Linked DNA regions of Homo sapiens: all the other regions are linked to region 2. The links come from fine-mapping of genetic effects on gene expression. A gene starts in region 2. Each other region holds a variant in brackets. All regions are shown on one strand. Distances are between the middles of the regions.

Evidence for each region. PIP is the estimated chance that this variant, and not a neighbour inherited with it, causes the effect.
Region 1: its variant is fine-mapped to the expression of ERVK3-1 in substantia nigra (GTEx, PIP above 0.99). The same link has a PIP of 0.9 or more in whole blood.
Region 3: its variant is fine-mapped to the expression of ERVK3-1 in putamen (GTEx, PIP 0.98).

What each region holds. Positions count from the first base shown.
Region 1 is chr19:58,244,978-58,250,226 of GRCh38, reverse strand. It overlaps ZNF544 (zinc finger protein 544), which reads right to left. Exons shown (of 7, transcript NM_014480.4): 5 at 3,800-3,926; 6 at 3,433-3,516. Among named protein-coding and RNA genes, the nearest start is that of ZNF544, 19 kb to the right of the region's middle. The variant A/G (reference allele first, on the strand shown) is at 2,522.
Region 2 is chr19:58,303,114-58,308,362 of GRCh38, reverse strand. It overlaps ERVK3-1 (endogenous retrovirus group K3 member 1), which reads right to left and starts at 2,986. Exons shown (of 4, transcript NM_001396080.1): 1 at 2,918-2,986; 2 at 2,147-2,275. It overlaps ZNF8-ERVK3-1 (ZNF8-ERVK3-1 readthrough (NMD candidate)), which reads right to left. Exons shown (of 7, transcript NR_144447.1): 5 at 2,147-2,275. RefSeq lists enhancers at 2,280-2,780, 2,995-3,264.
Region 3 is chr19:58,386,647-58,391,809 of GRCh38, reverse strand. It overlaps RPS5 (ribosomal protein S5), which reads right to left and starts at 4,541. Exons shown (of 6, transcript NM_001009.4): 1 at 4,471-4,541; 2 at 3,565-3,673. The coding sequence starts at 3,672. MIR4754 (microRNA 4754) reads left to right here and starts at 4,952; the gene lies at 4,952-5,040. RefSeq lists enhancers at 4,231-4,280, 4,474-4,768. The variant G/A (reference allele first, on the strand shown) is at 3,075.

The DNA.
Region 1 (5,249 bases), 58 kb after region 2:
ACCTTCATAGGGACCTTAACCACTTGGGAAAGTGAAAACAACAAGCTAACCCACATGTTTACCATAGAAAATTCTTGTCTTGAAAAACTAGGAGCCTTTTACCTGTGTGGAACTAGTTCTTACTTATGTTTACCAGCCAATTGGACTAGAACCTTTACACTTGTTTATTTAGCCTGTGAAATTAATATAGCTCCCAAGAACCAATCCCTCATTATACCTTTAACTGCAATTGCCAGACACAAATGAACCATCCAACTCACATCCCTTTTGGTAGGACTACAAATAACCGCGGGACTGGGAATGGGAGTCAGCCGGGTTGTAACATCCCTATCCTATTACCAATGCTTTTCCAAGGATTTTATGGAAAGCTTGAATGACATTGCCCAAAGTAAAAAAGAAAAAATAGAGACATTGGCCAAAGTATCATCACCATACGAAATCAAATAGATGCCTCAGCAGCAGTTGCTTGGCAAAACAGAAGGGGATGAGATCTCCTAACTGCTGTAAAGGGGGGCTTAGGTCTTTTTCTAGAGGAAGAATGCTGTTTTTATGCCGAACAATGAGGATTAGTAACAAATGCCACCCAAAAACTACCCAACTGGGCCTCTAAAATACAACAACAGCTATCTGAGTCATGGGGCTCCTGGTCAAAAATGCTAAGTTGGGGTTCATGGCTCCTTCCTCTGGCCAGCCCATTAGTAATGACTATACTTGCCTTGGTTTTTGGACCATGTTTGTTAAACTCTTAACCAAATTCATTTCCTGTCACCTAGAGACCATCAAGCTTCAGATGATCATGTGACAATGTTTCCAGCCAGTTCCAGGTGGAGACACCACCCCTGGCCATCAAGAAGCTATCCTGTCTCCACTAGACAGGGCGGGGAGAGAGTCCTGTGATTCCCCAGTACGTAGGGACTGTGCCTCAGGTCAGCATAAAGCAGTTACAGAAGAAAGACTATCAATCCCTTTACCTCCCATAAAGATTTATGAGGATCATGTCTTTCGGGGGGAAATGAGGTATGAGAACAGGGTATGGAGGCAAGAAACCTAAGGGTGATTAATGCTGACTTCCTGGAACTGAATCAAAAGGAAAACCCAAACTTTCCATGCCCCAAATAACAAAAGGATCAGAGGCAACCCCCGCCTTCTGTGTCGCAGATGAAAAATGGAAAGTACCTCTTCCTGCAACCAATGAGACTGGTCACTGGCCTAGTTTTCATCTGCATAGAGGTGTAACTTTGTAACTTCACTTCAGCCTCTGTTGGTCACCTTCCCCAACCAATCAGACTAGTTATGGGCCACTACTTCATTTACAGAGGATATAAACCAAGTAACCAATGGGAAACCTCTCGGGATTTAAACCCCAGAAAATTCTGTAACCAGTGCTCTTGAGCTGCTTGCTCCAGACCACTCCCATTGTGTGGAGTGTACTTTCATTTTGATAAATCTATGCTTTTTTTGCTTCATTCTTTCATTGTTTTATGCATTTTGTCCAATTCTTTGTTCAAAATGCCAAGAACCTGCACATCCTCCACCAGTAACACCAGGGGCTGGGGATGAGGGAGGGATGAATGGGTAGAGCACAGAGAATATTTAGGGTAGTGGAACTACTCTGTCTGATACTATAATGGTGGATACATGACATTGTACATTTGTCCAAATGCACAGAATATACAACATCAGGAGTGAAGCCTGGCCAGGTGCAGTGGCTCATACATGTAATCCCAGCACTTTGGGAGGCTGAGGTGGGAGGATCACTTGAGCCCAGGAGTTCAAGACAAGCCTGGGCAACACAGTGACACTCCATCTCTACAAAAAATTTTTACATTAGCCAGGCATGGTGGTGCATGCTGTGGCACCTGAGGCTGGGGTGCAGAGAGGTGGGAGGATCACTTAAGCCCAGAAGGCTTAAGCTATGACTGCATCACTGTCTCAAAAAAAAAAAAAAAAAAAGAAAAAAAAAAGCATGAACCCTATCATAAACTATGGACTTTGGGTGATAATGATGCCTCAAGGGCAAGGGGTAGTGGCTCACGCCTGTAATCCCAGCACTTTGGGAGGCTGAGGGGGGCGCATCATGAGGTCAGGAGATCGAGACCATCCTGGCCAACATGGTGAAACTCTGACTCTACTAAAAATACAAAAATTAGCTGGGCGTGGTGGTGCGTGCCTGTAGTCCCAGTTAGTTGGGAGGTTGAGGCAGGAAAATCACTTGAACCTGGGGGGCGGAGGTTGCAGTGAGCTGAGATCACACCACTGTACGCCAGCCTGGTGACAGAGTGAGACTCTGTCTGGGAAAAAAAAAAAGGATGCCTCAAGATAGGTTTGCCGATTGTAACAGATGTACAATACAAATCCAAGTTGTTAACAGCAGGAGACACTGCATGTGTCTGTAGGACAGCAGACATGGGTGGGAACTCTGCACTTTCTCGTCAACTTACCTATAAACCTAAAACTGCTCTAAAAAATAAAGTCTATTAGCCTGGGCAACATGATGAAACCCTATCTCCATTAAAAATAC[A/G]AAAATTAATGGCCAGGTGCAGTGGCTCATACCTGTAATCCCGGCACTTTGGGAGGCTGAGGCAGGTGGATCACCTGAGGTCGGGAGTTCGAGACCAGCCTGACCAACATGGAGAAACCCCACCTCTAATAAAAATACAAAATTAGGGCCAGGCGTGATGGCTCACACCTGTAATCTCAGCACTTTGGGAGGCTGAGGCGGGCGGATCATGAGGTCAGGAGATCAAGACCATCCTGGCTAACACGGTGAAACTCTGTCTCCACTAAAAATACAAAAAATTAGCCGGGCATGGTGGACATGCCTGTAATCCCAGCTACTTGGGAGGCTGAGGCAGGAGAATCACTTGAACCTGGGAGGTGGAGGTTGTGGTGAGCCGAGATTGTGCCATTGCACTCCAGTCTGGGCAACAAGAGCGAAACTCCGTCTTAAAAAACAAAAACAAAAACAAAAGAATTAGCCAGGTGTGGCAGTGTGCACCTGTAGTCCAAGCTACTAGGGAGGCTGACGCATGAGAATTGCTTGAGCCAGGGAGATGGGGGCTATAGTGAGCCAAGACAGCGCCACTGCACTTCAGCCTGGGCAACAGAGTAAAACCCTATCTCAAAATAAATAAATAAATACATACATTAATTAAAAAAAAACAAATCAAGTAAAGAGGCCTAAATGGTTGGGATGATGAACATGTTCTAGAACTGATTGTGGTGAGGGTTCCACACTCAGGGAAGACACTGGAAGCCATGAACTGCATACTTCGAATTGGTGAACTCCTTTGAATGGGTGAACTGCTGCAAAGAGCACCCAAGGAGGCTTCCTCCAAACAAGGCTCCCTCCTTGGCCCCTGGGGCCCTGCGGAGAGCTCTCTGTCCAAGCTTGTTAAACGTTGAGCTGCTCACCACAAGGTCTGCTCTTACCTCGGGGGGCCTCCTGCTCTGCCCTGCACAGGTCCTCTTCTTGCTCCAGCTGAGAGATCACATCAGATTTGGAAAGGAAAAGCCCTGGTCAAAGACGGAAAAAGGACTTGCCCCTCTGCTTGGACACCAAGAACCATGTCCTGGGTCCAAGCTTCAGCCCCTAGTGCTGTCCCGAGGAAACTCCCCACTGTTAGGACTACAAGTCACAAACCTGTCCCAGAGATAGAATGAAGGGCAACCCCTGGGAACTGCACCTGAAAGGGACCTGCTTCCAGTATCTTCCAGCACATCCCAGAACACCCTTCAGAACTTGGTACAGCTTTGAGTCCTAGGGGTAGAACCTCCTTCCATGAGCACAGCCACTTACCCAGGGAGACAATATGCTCCCAGGTCTCCAGTGTCACCTCTCGGTACAGTGTCCTCTGGGCCAGGTCCAGCTGTTCCCACTCCTCCTGTGTGAATGCCATAGCCACATCCTCGAAGCACACAGATGCCTGAAACAGGGCACTTGTTACTGCTCAGAGACCCCAGGTCCTCATGCCCTCACGGAGGTACCTGTTAAGGCCTAAATGTTGGTGTCCCCCCGTAAAATTCATACATTGGAACCTAATACCCAGTGAGATAGTGTTAAGAGGTGGGGTCTTTACAAGGCAATTAATGTCCTCATAAAAGAGGCTTGAGGGAGCCTGTGTTCACCTTCTACCATATGAGGACATGTAAGAGGTGCCATCTATGAGACAGCAGGCCCCAACCAGACCAACTCTGTTGACACATTGATCTTGGACTTACCAGCCTCCAGAACTATGAGCAGTCAATTCTGTTGTTTGTAAATTGCTCACTCTAAGGTATCTTATTATAGCAACCCAAACGGACTGGGACAGCTCCATGTATGTGGTCTGTACCATTCCTTTTCTGGGCATCTCACCTCTTGCCAGTCACAGCAGTGGTCCTGATTTCTAGACTGGAAATGACAGGAACTCCACTAGGAGATCCTCACCCACTTCCTCTCTACAAAAATCACAGATTCGAAATGAGGTAAGAAAGACACTCTAAATCGGGGTGGGAAAACTGCAGCCTGTAGGACAAATCAGGGCTGTGGTGTGTTTTCAAAAGGCTAATGCTATAGAATAAACTGTGTTCCCAAAATTCACATGTTGAACCCTAACTCCCAAAGTGACTGTTGAAGAAGGTGATTGACCGGGCACGGTGGCTCACGCCTGTAATCCCAGCACTTTGGGAGGCCGAGGCGGGCAGATCACAAGGTCAGGAGTTCGAGACCAGCCTGGCCAACATGGTGAAACCCCGTCTCTACTAAAAATACAAAAATTAGCCAGGCATGGTGGCACATGCCTGTAATCCCAGCTACTCTTCCTGGCTGCAGCAGGAGAATCGCTTGAACCTGGAGGCAGAGGTTGCAGTGAGCTGAGATCGCGCCATTGTACTCCAGCCTGGGTGACAGGGTGAGACTCCATCTCAAAAGAAAAAAAAAAAAAAAACCCCACAAACAAGGTGATTAATTTTAACTGTTTAAGAACTGTTCAAGAAGGTGACAGGGGGTCGGGCGCGGTGGTTCATGCCTGTAATCCCAACACTTTGGGAGGCCGAGATGGGTGGATTACTTGAGGTCAGGAGTTCGAAACCAGCCTGGCCAACATGGTGAAATCCCATCTCTACAAAAAATTAGCTGGGTGTGGTGGCGGGCACCTGTAATCCCAGCTACTTGGGAGGCCGAGGCAGGAGAATTGCTTGAAACCAGGAGGCGGAGTTGCAGTGAGCTGAGATTGTGCCACTGCACTCCAGCCTGGGCAACAGAGCGA
Region 2 (5,249 bases):
GATGCAGAGGTTAGTAGCAGGGGCCAATTGTTTTTGGATATTACTGAAACATCTGCTCCTGTGTCCATACACCCACAACACTTCTTTCCTTTAATTTGCACTGCACAGGTGGGTCAATTAGAAGCTATGGGTTGGGATAGGTAAATTTCCTGTGTAGTTGTACTCCCAAATTCTTGATTTCCTCTTTTCTCCTTTCGTGAAGAAGGGTGTAATTTGCAGAGAATAATAATAAGCAATAGCTGAGCAATATATTTCCCAGGTTTAAAAACCCAAAGATCTTGTGACATTACAATTACTTGAATTTCTCCTTCATAATCAGAGTCAACAATCCAGGGATCACAGTAATGCCCTGTAAGTTCAGATGGCTTTGGCCTAAAATTAATCCTGTATATCCTGTTGGCAAAGGTTCCCAAATGCCTGTGGGAATTCTGGTGGGTTTGTCTCCTCCAACTAACGTGACCCATTCTCTGACTGAGCGATCTAATCCTGCACTCCCCGGTGTTCCAGAGGAGAGGGAGTCAATGTTCCTCCAGGAACCCACCCCTGTAGCAGGGTTGTGGCCTGGATGGGGAATGCCCTCATTGTTTGAGGGGCCCAGGCCCCATTCTCATTTCCTGAGAGCGGGGTGCCATTCTGATGAAATTTTGAGCAACACTGATTAGCCCAATGATTTCCTTTATTACGGCGAGGGCAAAGTCCTGGTGTTTTTTTTTCTGTGTGTGTGTGTTGGGGGGAGCGGGGCGGGGAGGGGGGGGCGGTATTGCATTGTAAGATCCCTTCTGCCCAGAGGTCTGATGGTATTCTTTTTTGAAATGTCCAATTTTTCCACAATTATAACATTTTCCCACTTTAGGGCTCAACCCTTGGCCCTTTTCAGATTTGTTCACTACTAAATTAGCTATTACTTGAGCTAACACAGTTGAACGATGGAGTTCAGTTCCCACATCCTGACAGGCTTTGAGAAAATTTCCCAAGCTGTTTGTACATCTCACGGGTGCTAATGCACATTTACAATCTGCATTTGCATTTTCAAAAGCTAGGGTCAAAGTAAGCATTTTCGCAGGAGCAGTATGAGGAATCTGATGCCTCACTGACTGTTGTAACTGTGCAATAAATTGTGCAAAGGGCTCCTGTGATTTTTGCATGATATGCGGAAAAGATTTTATTGAGACCCCTTTCTCAGGAATGGTGGCCCAGGCACGCTTAGCGGCCAGGCGCACTGATGGTAAGCAGCATCTGGAAGTGTCAATTGTTGCACCAGATCTGAATAAGAGTCACTACCCAATAGCATTTCCTCTGTAATGTTCCCATGTCCAGCGGTGAGATTCTGTCTAGCCTGGTCTGCACACATTTCTTGCCAATTTAAATTCCATGTCAAATATGCACTAGCAGAGAAACAAGTGCAAGCTAAATGCTTTATATCCAAGGGTGGGAGGCGCATAGTGCTGAATACAGATTCTAACAATCCTAAAGTAAATGGGCTCTGTATTCCATTATTAACCACACTAGCTTTTAATTCTTTCAATAATTTAAATTTTACTGGAGTGTGTTCATGAATAAACTGCTGTGGATTATTTGGATCAGGCCTTAAGGTAATAGGAAAAGTGCAAGGTCCTAGTGGCTCGCCAGCTATGGCCACAGCATGTAGAATTTTTTGTACTGGGGTCTCTATTTCTGCTACTGGAGGGGACAGTACAGGCCAGTTCTCATCCTCCCTCTCCTGTTTATCATTTTCAATGGGCGCTGCTGGTGAGACAAAAGATTCTTTCAATTTTTGAGATTCAGAACATAGCACCTGCTGTCTGGCAGAATAAGAAGAGGACAATGGCAGGAGGACAGTACAGACCAAACCCCAAGCAGAGAAAATAGAAGGATCCACTTTAAGAACTTTCTGATGAGCTCGTTTCAATCTTTCTCCTACTCAGTCTCAATTTTCCACAGCAAGAGTACCTGTCTGCAGAAACCATGGGTTATGTGTAATAACCTCCTGCAGAAGCTTAATGTTTGAGAACTAACCCGAGCACCAGATTGTTTAAGTAAAACTTTAAGCAGCTGCACATAATGTTGCTCCTCAACAGACAGATTCTGCCCCATGTTACCCTGATTCAGAAACCTCCCGCTCCCGATACCTTCTCAGGGAACTGACCTTATATTCTCCGCCGGCAGACTCTCCCGTCCAGGGGTTCGTAGTTCGTCTGATCAGTTTCACTTTCTCTGCTCTGGCAGACCTTCCTCGTTCAGGTCCCTGGTCGGGCACCACTTGTCACGGTTGCTTCTGGACCAAACGAAGGAGAACGAAGGCAGAAATGAAGACAAAGACAAAAGGATCTGTTTGAAAGAAGGGGTCAGGGGGCTCCTAGATTCTAGGGAACAGGGCCCTGAGCTTTTACAGCCCTTCATATTTGTTAGGTAGACTGAATAGGGAGGAAAGGGTAACTGACGGTCAGCTATTTGATTTAACACAGGCCCACATGACTGCTTTCTTTGTTCAGCAGGTTCCAGATGTTCCTGTAGATAACCTCAAGGAGCAGGGGACCTGGGACATGACTGCCCCCAGCATTCCTTCTGGCGGCAGACGCAGTTTGTCAGTTTACCAACATCCTGCTTTCATGAGAACAGTTTGCGGTTTGCTCATAGAGCCTCCAGTGGTATAATGAGTTGGTCACGACCCTCATTCCTTCTGCCTCCAACACAGAATGCTCCCCTCCCACGGGCGCATAAGCGGTGACACCCGGCAGGACATGGCAGGTCGCGCCCTCACGCACCGCGCGCCTCTCTGCCCGCGCCGACCCGGGGTCGCGTTCCCCTCACAGGTCCCACCCGTCCACTCATTCACTCCCACCATCAGCACACTTAGGCCACGGGCGCCTCTCCATCCCTCACAATCACCCTCGCCTCTCCTCCACACACCACTCACCACTGTGGCAGCCTCCTCAGAGAGCCTAGCCGCCCGATAGTCCGCGCGCCCGTGAGCGTCTTACACACTGCCGCCGGCACTTCCGGTACGCACTTCCGCCTGGTGGCCAGCGGCCGCCCAGGACCTCACCTCCCAGAAGGCCCTTCGCCTTCCTGCCTGGAAACGGCCATGCACGGGATACAAGGCCTTCTGGGAAATGGAGTTCACAGCGCTGCGGGGCCGGAAGGGGAGCGTGGGAGCTGCGGATCGTCAGAACCTCTCGGTTCTGCGCAGGCAGCGCACCGGAAGGGAAGTATATTGACATCCATGGTTTTATATGTTCTTTGAAATATACAGCGTATGTACTTTTTTCTTTCTCTACGCGCACACATGTACACACATAGATATAAAAGTATATCGTTTGGAGATATTTTTCCCCCCTGAACCTTGTATATCCTTAAGCAGATGTCCCCTAAGAACACGTACATTCTTCAACTCACCCAAGTAACGACATTGAAGCCTGTACCCAATCCCCAGCCCATATGCTAATTTCTCCAGTTGTCCCAATGTCTTACGTAGTTTTCGTCTTTTATTCAAGCACAAACTAAACACGCATTACACTCTACTGTCTCATTTCAAGTTGCTTTCAATCTAGAATGGATCCTGTTGTTTCTTTATAATGATCTTGGCAGTTTTCATGTATCCAAGCGAGTTTTCCAAAATGCCCTCCAATTTAGGCTTGTCCGTATAGAGTATAAAACAATCATAATATAATTTTACAGGTTTTCTTCCACTGACCCTGCACATTTCTCCACTAAACATTTTTTGAAAACTTTCTGAAACATGGCTAGTATTACACCGTATGAATGCCATTTCTTTATCCCCCACCTCCAGCCATTTAGCTAGAAATTGAGCAACAGGTGTATGCAGTCCCTGTACATTCCTATTTCTGTATGTCCAGGAGACTCTCTGATAACAGGCAGGCCCTGCATGATGCAAATCACCTTAATCGAGGGAGGTGCCGGGGTACAGTGTGGGACATGATAATTCCATCTACACGCAGAAGGCCTGTATGACCTAGTGGAGGAGGCTCCCAATGTGCATACTGACTCGGGTTACACCTCCCTACTCCTACCACAGTCAGATCATCACAGGGGGACTTTAAAAATTCTATCAGCTCTGGGCCGGGCATGGTGGCTCACGCCTGTAATCCCAGCACTTTGGGAGGCCACAGTGGGAGAACCACTAAAGCCCAGGAATTCGAGACCAACCTGGGCAACACAGTGAGTCCCTGTTGCTATAAATGAAAAATTTTTTTAATTAAAAAAATTTACATCTAAATAGCTATACATGACTAGTGGCTACCATGTTGTACAGTGCATTCTGGAAGATGTCCATGTTGGATCTCCTTACAAAAGACCTATGGGAGACTGCTTTTCAGACTGGATGCTGATTTCTTCCCAGTTACCCATTGCAGAAACAACTTGAATACCTTGGAGGACATGAAGATAACACTGGAAATGGGGGACTTGGCTATTGGCTAAAACTTGTATGTAGGGGGCTCTCATAATTGGGGCTCATTGATACAGGAAATTTAACAAAGTAACTTGGAAATGTATGTGTGCGCTACAGCCACCCTCCAGGGACCTTTATCTTGTATCTTTGGTATCATCGAGTTGAAGCTGTTTTACACTCAACTGTTTCTGTCAACTGAACACACACACACACACGAGTATATATAGAACAAGTATGAATATGACCAAGACACACACTCTCTGCTCATGTGAACACTGTATGGGGGATGCAGACAGTAAACAATGAAAGAAATTATCAAACTTACTTTAATTTGAAACAGTTAAGATTTTTGTTTAAATTTATTTTTTGAACTGGTAATAATTTTACATGTTTCAAAATTCCAAAAATATAAAATGATAAAGAGTGAAAATTATTCCTCATCACTGTCCTCCCAATTCTTCTGGCCAACCAGTATGCCACTTTTACCCTTTCAGAGATTATGTGTGTACATATAAACAAATGTTTCTTATTTATTTATTTATTTTTGAGATGGAGTTTCGCTCTTGTTGCCCAAGCTGGAGTGCAATGGCACAATATTGGCTCACTGCAACCTCCACTTCCTGGGTTCAAGCGATTCTCCTGCCTTAGCCTACGGAGTAGCTGGGATTAGAAGTGTGCACCACCACACCCAGCTTTTGTATTTTTAGTAGAGATGGGGTTTCACCGTGTTGGTCAGGCTGGTCTTGAACTCCGGACCTCAGGTGATCCACCCGCCTCGGCCTCCCAAAGTGCTGGGATTACAGGCGTGAGTCACCTTGCCTAGCCTGTTTCTTCTTTA
Region 3 (5,163 bases), 83 kb before region 2:
GGACTACAGGTGCATGCCACCATGCCAGGCTAATTTTTGTATTTTTAGTAGAGCTGGGGTTTGGACATGTTGGCCAGGCTGGTCTTGAACTCTTGACCTCAGGTGATCCGTCCGCCTCAGCCTCCCAAAGTGATGGGATTACAGGCATAAGCCACTGCACCTGGCTGAGAACTTTTTTGTTTTTGGGTTTTTTGTTTGTTTGTTTTTGAGATGGAGTCTCACTCTGTCACCCAGGCTGGAGTGCAACGTTGCAATCTTGGCTCACTGCAACCTCCACCTCCTGGGTTGAAGCAATTCTCCTGCCTCAGCCTCCCAAGTTGCTGGGATTACAGACATGCGTCACCATGCTCAGCCCAGTTTTTTTTTTTTTTTTTTTTGAGATGGAGTTTCGCTCTTGTTGGCCAGGCTGGAGTGCAATGGCATGATTTCAGCTCATCCCAACCTCCACCTCCCAGGTTCAAGCGATTCTCCTGCATCAGCCTCCTAAGTAGCTGGGACAACAGGTGCACGCCACCATGCAAGGCTAATTTTTGTATTTTTAGTAGAGACGGGGCTTCACCATGTTGGCCAGGCTGGTCTCAAACCCCTGACCTCAGATGATCTGCCCGCCTCAGTCTCCCAAAGTGCTGGGATTACGGCGCCCGGCCCAGAACCACAGTTTTAAAACAATCATTTAACAAGTCTTCTTATACTTACATAGCCATCCCCACACAAAAATCTAGAAAAATGCCAAAAAGTTAACCTTGAGTATGTAAAGGGGAAGAAAGGAGCTATGTGCATTCGAAGGAGACTGCTGTTGATAGTTCCATTACAAAATGTACCCAAGGCCATTCTATCACTTGCCTCTGAGAATATACACAAAATACCTGTTTCTACAAATACAAGGAATGATGGGAAAAGAACACAGGACACTGAAACTCTCAGTACTATTTCATAGTCTGGCTGCAAGAAAAAAAAAACTCACAGTCTCGTGAAGGGCATTCACGCAGGGCTTTCACTATGCAGCAAAAAATTGCAAACACCAAATTCCCCAGGAAGGGTTTGGCCCAACAGTGGAGCCCTGCACAGGTGTTTAAAATACAGTGAACTCCCATTGATGTTTATTTCCCTAGTGGAACAGGCACTTAACAAACGTTTAATAGATCAAGGAGTTCAAGGCCAGCCTGGCCAACATGGTGAAACCCTGTCTCTACTAAAAAGACAAAAATTAGCCAGGTGTGGTGGCATGCACCTGTAGTTCCAGCTACTAGGGAGGCTGAGGCAGGAAAATCACCTGAACCTAGGAGGTGGAGGTTGCAGTGAGCCGAGATCGTGCCACTGCACTCCAGCCTGGGTGACAGAGCGACTCCATCTCAAAAAAAAAAAAAAAAAAAAAAAAAAAAAGTAACAGTGGCCAGTGTGGCCCACAAAGTCTAAAACATTATCTGGGCCTATAATGAAAATGTTTGTGGGCTGGGCGCAGTGGCTCATGCCTATAACCCCAGCACTTCGGGAGGCTGAGGCAGGAAAGTCGCATGACCCTGGGGAGGCAGAGGTTGCAGTGAGCCGAGATCGCACCACTGCACTCCAGCCTGGGAGGCAGAGAGAGACTCTGTCTCACAAATAAATAAATAACGCCAGGCGTGGTGGCTCATGCCTGTAATCCCAGCACTTTGGGAGGCTGAGGCAGGCTGATCACCTGAAGTCAGGAGTTAAGAGACCAGCCTGACCAATATGATGAAACCCTGTCTCAACTAAAAATAAAAAAATTAGCTGGGTGCGGTGGCATGTGCCTGTAATCCCCGCTACTTGGGAGGCTGAGACAGGAGAATCGCTTGAACCCAGGAGGCAGAGGTTGCAGTGAGCCAAGATCGCACCATTGCACTCCAGACTGGGCGACAAGAACGAAACTCTGTCTCAAAAAATAAATAAATAATTAAAATGTGGCCGGGCAGATCATGAGGTCAGGAGTTCGAGACCAGCCTAACCAACATGGTGAAACCCCGTCTCTACTAAAAATACAAAAATTAGCCAGGCGTGGTGGTGTGCGCCTGTAATCTCAGCTACTTGGGAGGCTGAGGCGGGAGCATTGCTTGAACCCGGGAGGCGGAGGTTGTGGTGAGCTAAGATCGTGCCATTGCACTCCAGCCTGGGCAATAAGAGCGAAACTCCGTTTCAAAAAAATAAATAAATAAATAAACAAACAAAAAATAATAATAATATTTAAAATGTTTTTGGACCCCCCGAAATAAACCCCTGAAGGAAAGAAAAGCCAAGATCTACAAGATATTCAGAGTGAAAAACAAGGCTGAATTATCCATTAGGCATAGTGCCTAAGTCCCCTGACATCTTTACAGACAACAAAAAAGTTTTCATTCTTTATAAAACAAAAGGTAGCAGGTTTGGTGGCATGCATCTTTGGTCCCAGCTAGTTGGAGTCTAAGACAGGAAGATCCCCTGAGCCCAGGTGTATTGAGGCTGCAGTGAACTGTGATCACACCACTGCACTCCAGCCTGGGTGACAGAGAGTGATCTTATCTCAAAGATAAAACTTTAATGATTAAAAAAAAAGAGGAGGAAAGTGAATAAAGTGCAACCCAAGTTATATTCATCTTTATATCAATGCAGTCACAAAATATAATTTCAAACACTTTCTTTTAATGGAGGAAGGGCTCACAAAAGCTAAAGTTCTTAAGGCCCACAAAATTCTTAATGATGCCTTCATGGGGAGGGGAAAAAAAGGGTATGTGTAAAACCGTACGGAGTAGGAACAAAGTAGGACAACTCACACTTCCCAATTGCAAAACTTAATACAAAGCAAGAAAGTGTGGTACTGGCATAGAGACAGACATATAGACCAGTGGAATATAACTGAAAGTCTGTAATGAAACCCATACATCTGGGCCGGGCGCGGTGGCTCACGCCTGTAATCCCAGCACTTTGGGAGGCCGAGACGGGCGGATCACGAGGTCAGGAGATCGAGACCATCCTGGCTAACTCGGTGAAACCCTGTCTCTACTAAAAATAAAAAAAAAAAAATCAGCCAGGTGCAGTGGCGGGCACCTGTAGTCCCAGCTACTCAGGAGGCTGAGGCA[G/A]GAGAATGGTGTGAACCCGGTAGGCAGATCGCGTCACTGCACTCCAGCCCAGGGAACAGAGTGAGACTCCGTCTCAAAAAAAAAAAAAAAAAAAAAAAACTACGGCCAGCTGATTTATGACAAGTGGCCAAGGCCATTCAATTGAGGGAAAAAAAACATCTCTTTAGGAGATGGTACTGGATAACTGGATATTCACATGCAAAAGAATGACACTGGATGTTATGTATTTTACTACAAAAACAGTAACAAAAATACCATATGTGAGATGTGATGCTCCTTCTGGTGAAGGAGTCCTCTCATGACAGAAGTTGTAGTCATCTTTGAACAGGACGTAAGAGCAGATGTGGTAGATGTGGTGGTCAAGGGATCCCTTCTTTACCTGTTATGATCTCTATTCTTGACTTAATGGCACAGCAACAAGTTTGATGTGTGCCTTCCTGGAATAATGTCCGCCCCCAGCCAGGAAGGCCAATCACCAAGTTCCCCTCACCTGCAGGGAAATGTCATTGATCTGCACATCATCGGTGCTCCACTTCCCAAAGAGCTTGATGTCTGGGGTCTCTGCCACCGCTGGTGCTGCTGTCTCCCACTCGGTCATCCTGGGACAGGGTGATGACAGGAAAAAAACGTCAGAGCTCAGCTAGCATGGAGCAAAGGCGCACTCATTCCCAACTCTGAGGCTAGCCGCCATCTAGTGATGAACTGGGGGGTCGCAAAGGACCAAGAAAGGCCGTGAACGTGTTTTCAAGCACTAGAAAAATTACTCAGCTGTCAGCAAGAAGCATCTGTCTTTCACCTAGAACCCCTGGGCCCAAGACTTGGCAGCCACCAGTCAACAGCTGCTGCACTGGGACCAAGGTATAATGGCTCAGCAGATGCCATACGTCCTCACACTGCATGGGCTGTAATTCAAACCACAATCTCGCGATTTACATGGTCTTTGACCCAAGTCAACGTTCCGTCTCGGACTGTTTCTTTGGCCGTGAGGCGGGACCGTTATATGACATCAAGGACCACGGTAGGTACCGTGTGGCACAATCAACCCAAAGGTTTCGATTCTTGACCGACAGTATGAAGGCTCTAGGGGCTGCTATTACGGGGGGAAAGTTACACAGAGCAAAAGAGGGCATCGTGTCCCTAAGAAATGGAAACTTCCTATCTCAGAGTACAACCGCATAGTTCAAACCAAGTTCCCCAAGCCCCGCTATGGGGAAAAGCTAGAAGCGGCGGAGCACCAGAAAGAAGTCAAGAGTAACTCGGCCCGCGCCCGTTTCTTCTACATTTTCTTTTCCAGAGACAGAAATGAGACCTAATGAGAAAAGGCCCAGGCCGCGGGGCACTATCCCCGAAAGACCATGAACCGTCCCTAGGATCCCCGGCCCCGCGGCGGTCTCACCTGAGAACACAGCCTGAGCGTCTCTGTCACTCGGCGTAGACCACGCGCCGCCCTGGTACAGACAGGAAGAGGCCGCGCGCCGCGGGCCAACACTTTTAACTGGGAAGAAAACTTCCGGGTCAGCACGGGTGACGCTTGCGTAAAAGGCCATCGTGTCCCTATAGACCAATCCGGAGGAAGGTTGTAGAGGAACCTTTTGGGCTAGACGGAATGGGTGCAGCCCAAGCGCATGCGCAGTTGCAGAAGCGGCCCTAGAAGCGTGCCTGGCGGATGTCCGCTACCCCGTAGTTGCCCTGTCTTGTGGGCGCCTGCAAAAGCGCAGAGATTTCCGTGAGACCAACGCAGCCATGTCTAATAAAGAAAAAAGTCTGGCCAGCGCTCGCTTCTTTGTTCAGCTGCTGACCTTAAATCCCACCTGCCGCGGGAGTAGCCAGTTCAGTTCCCTCTGACTCCTCGCCGCGGCCACAGCCGCCTCACCGGCACGCGCCTGATGCGGACCTGGGTTAGCGGAGTGAGGCCCAGTGGTCACCGCCGCCCTCCGCAGGTCCAGGTTGCCGTGCGCATGTGCCTGCCACACGCGGCCCCTCCCCCACCGCCCGGCCCAGGAGCACCACGCTCGCGAGCCCCGGATCCCGAGCCTCTGGCTGGGCCTGTTTCCCTGCTCGACCTTTCCTGCCATACCACGCTGGGTTC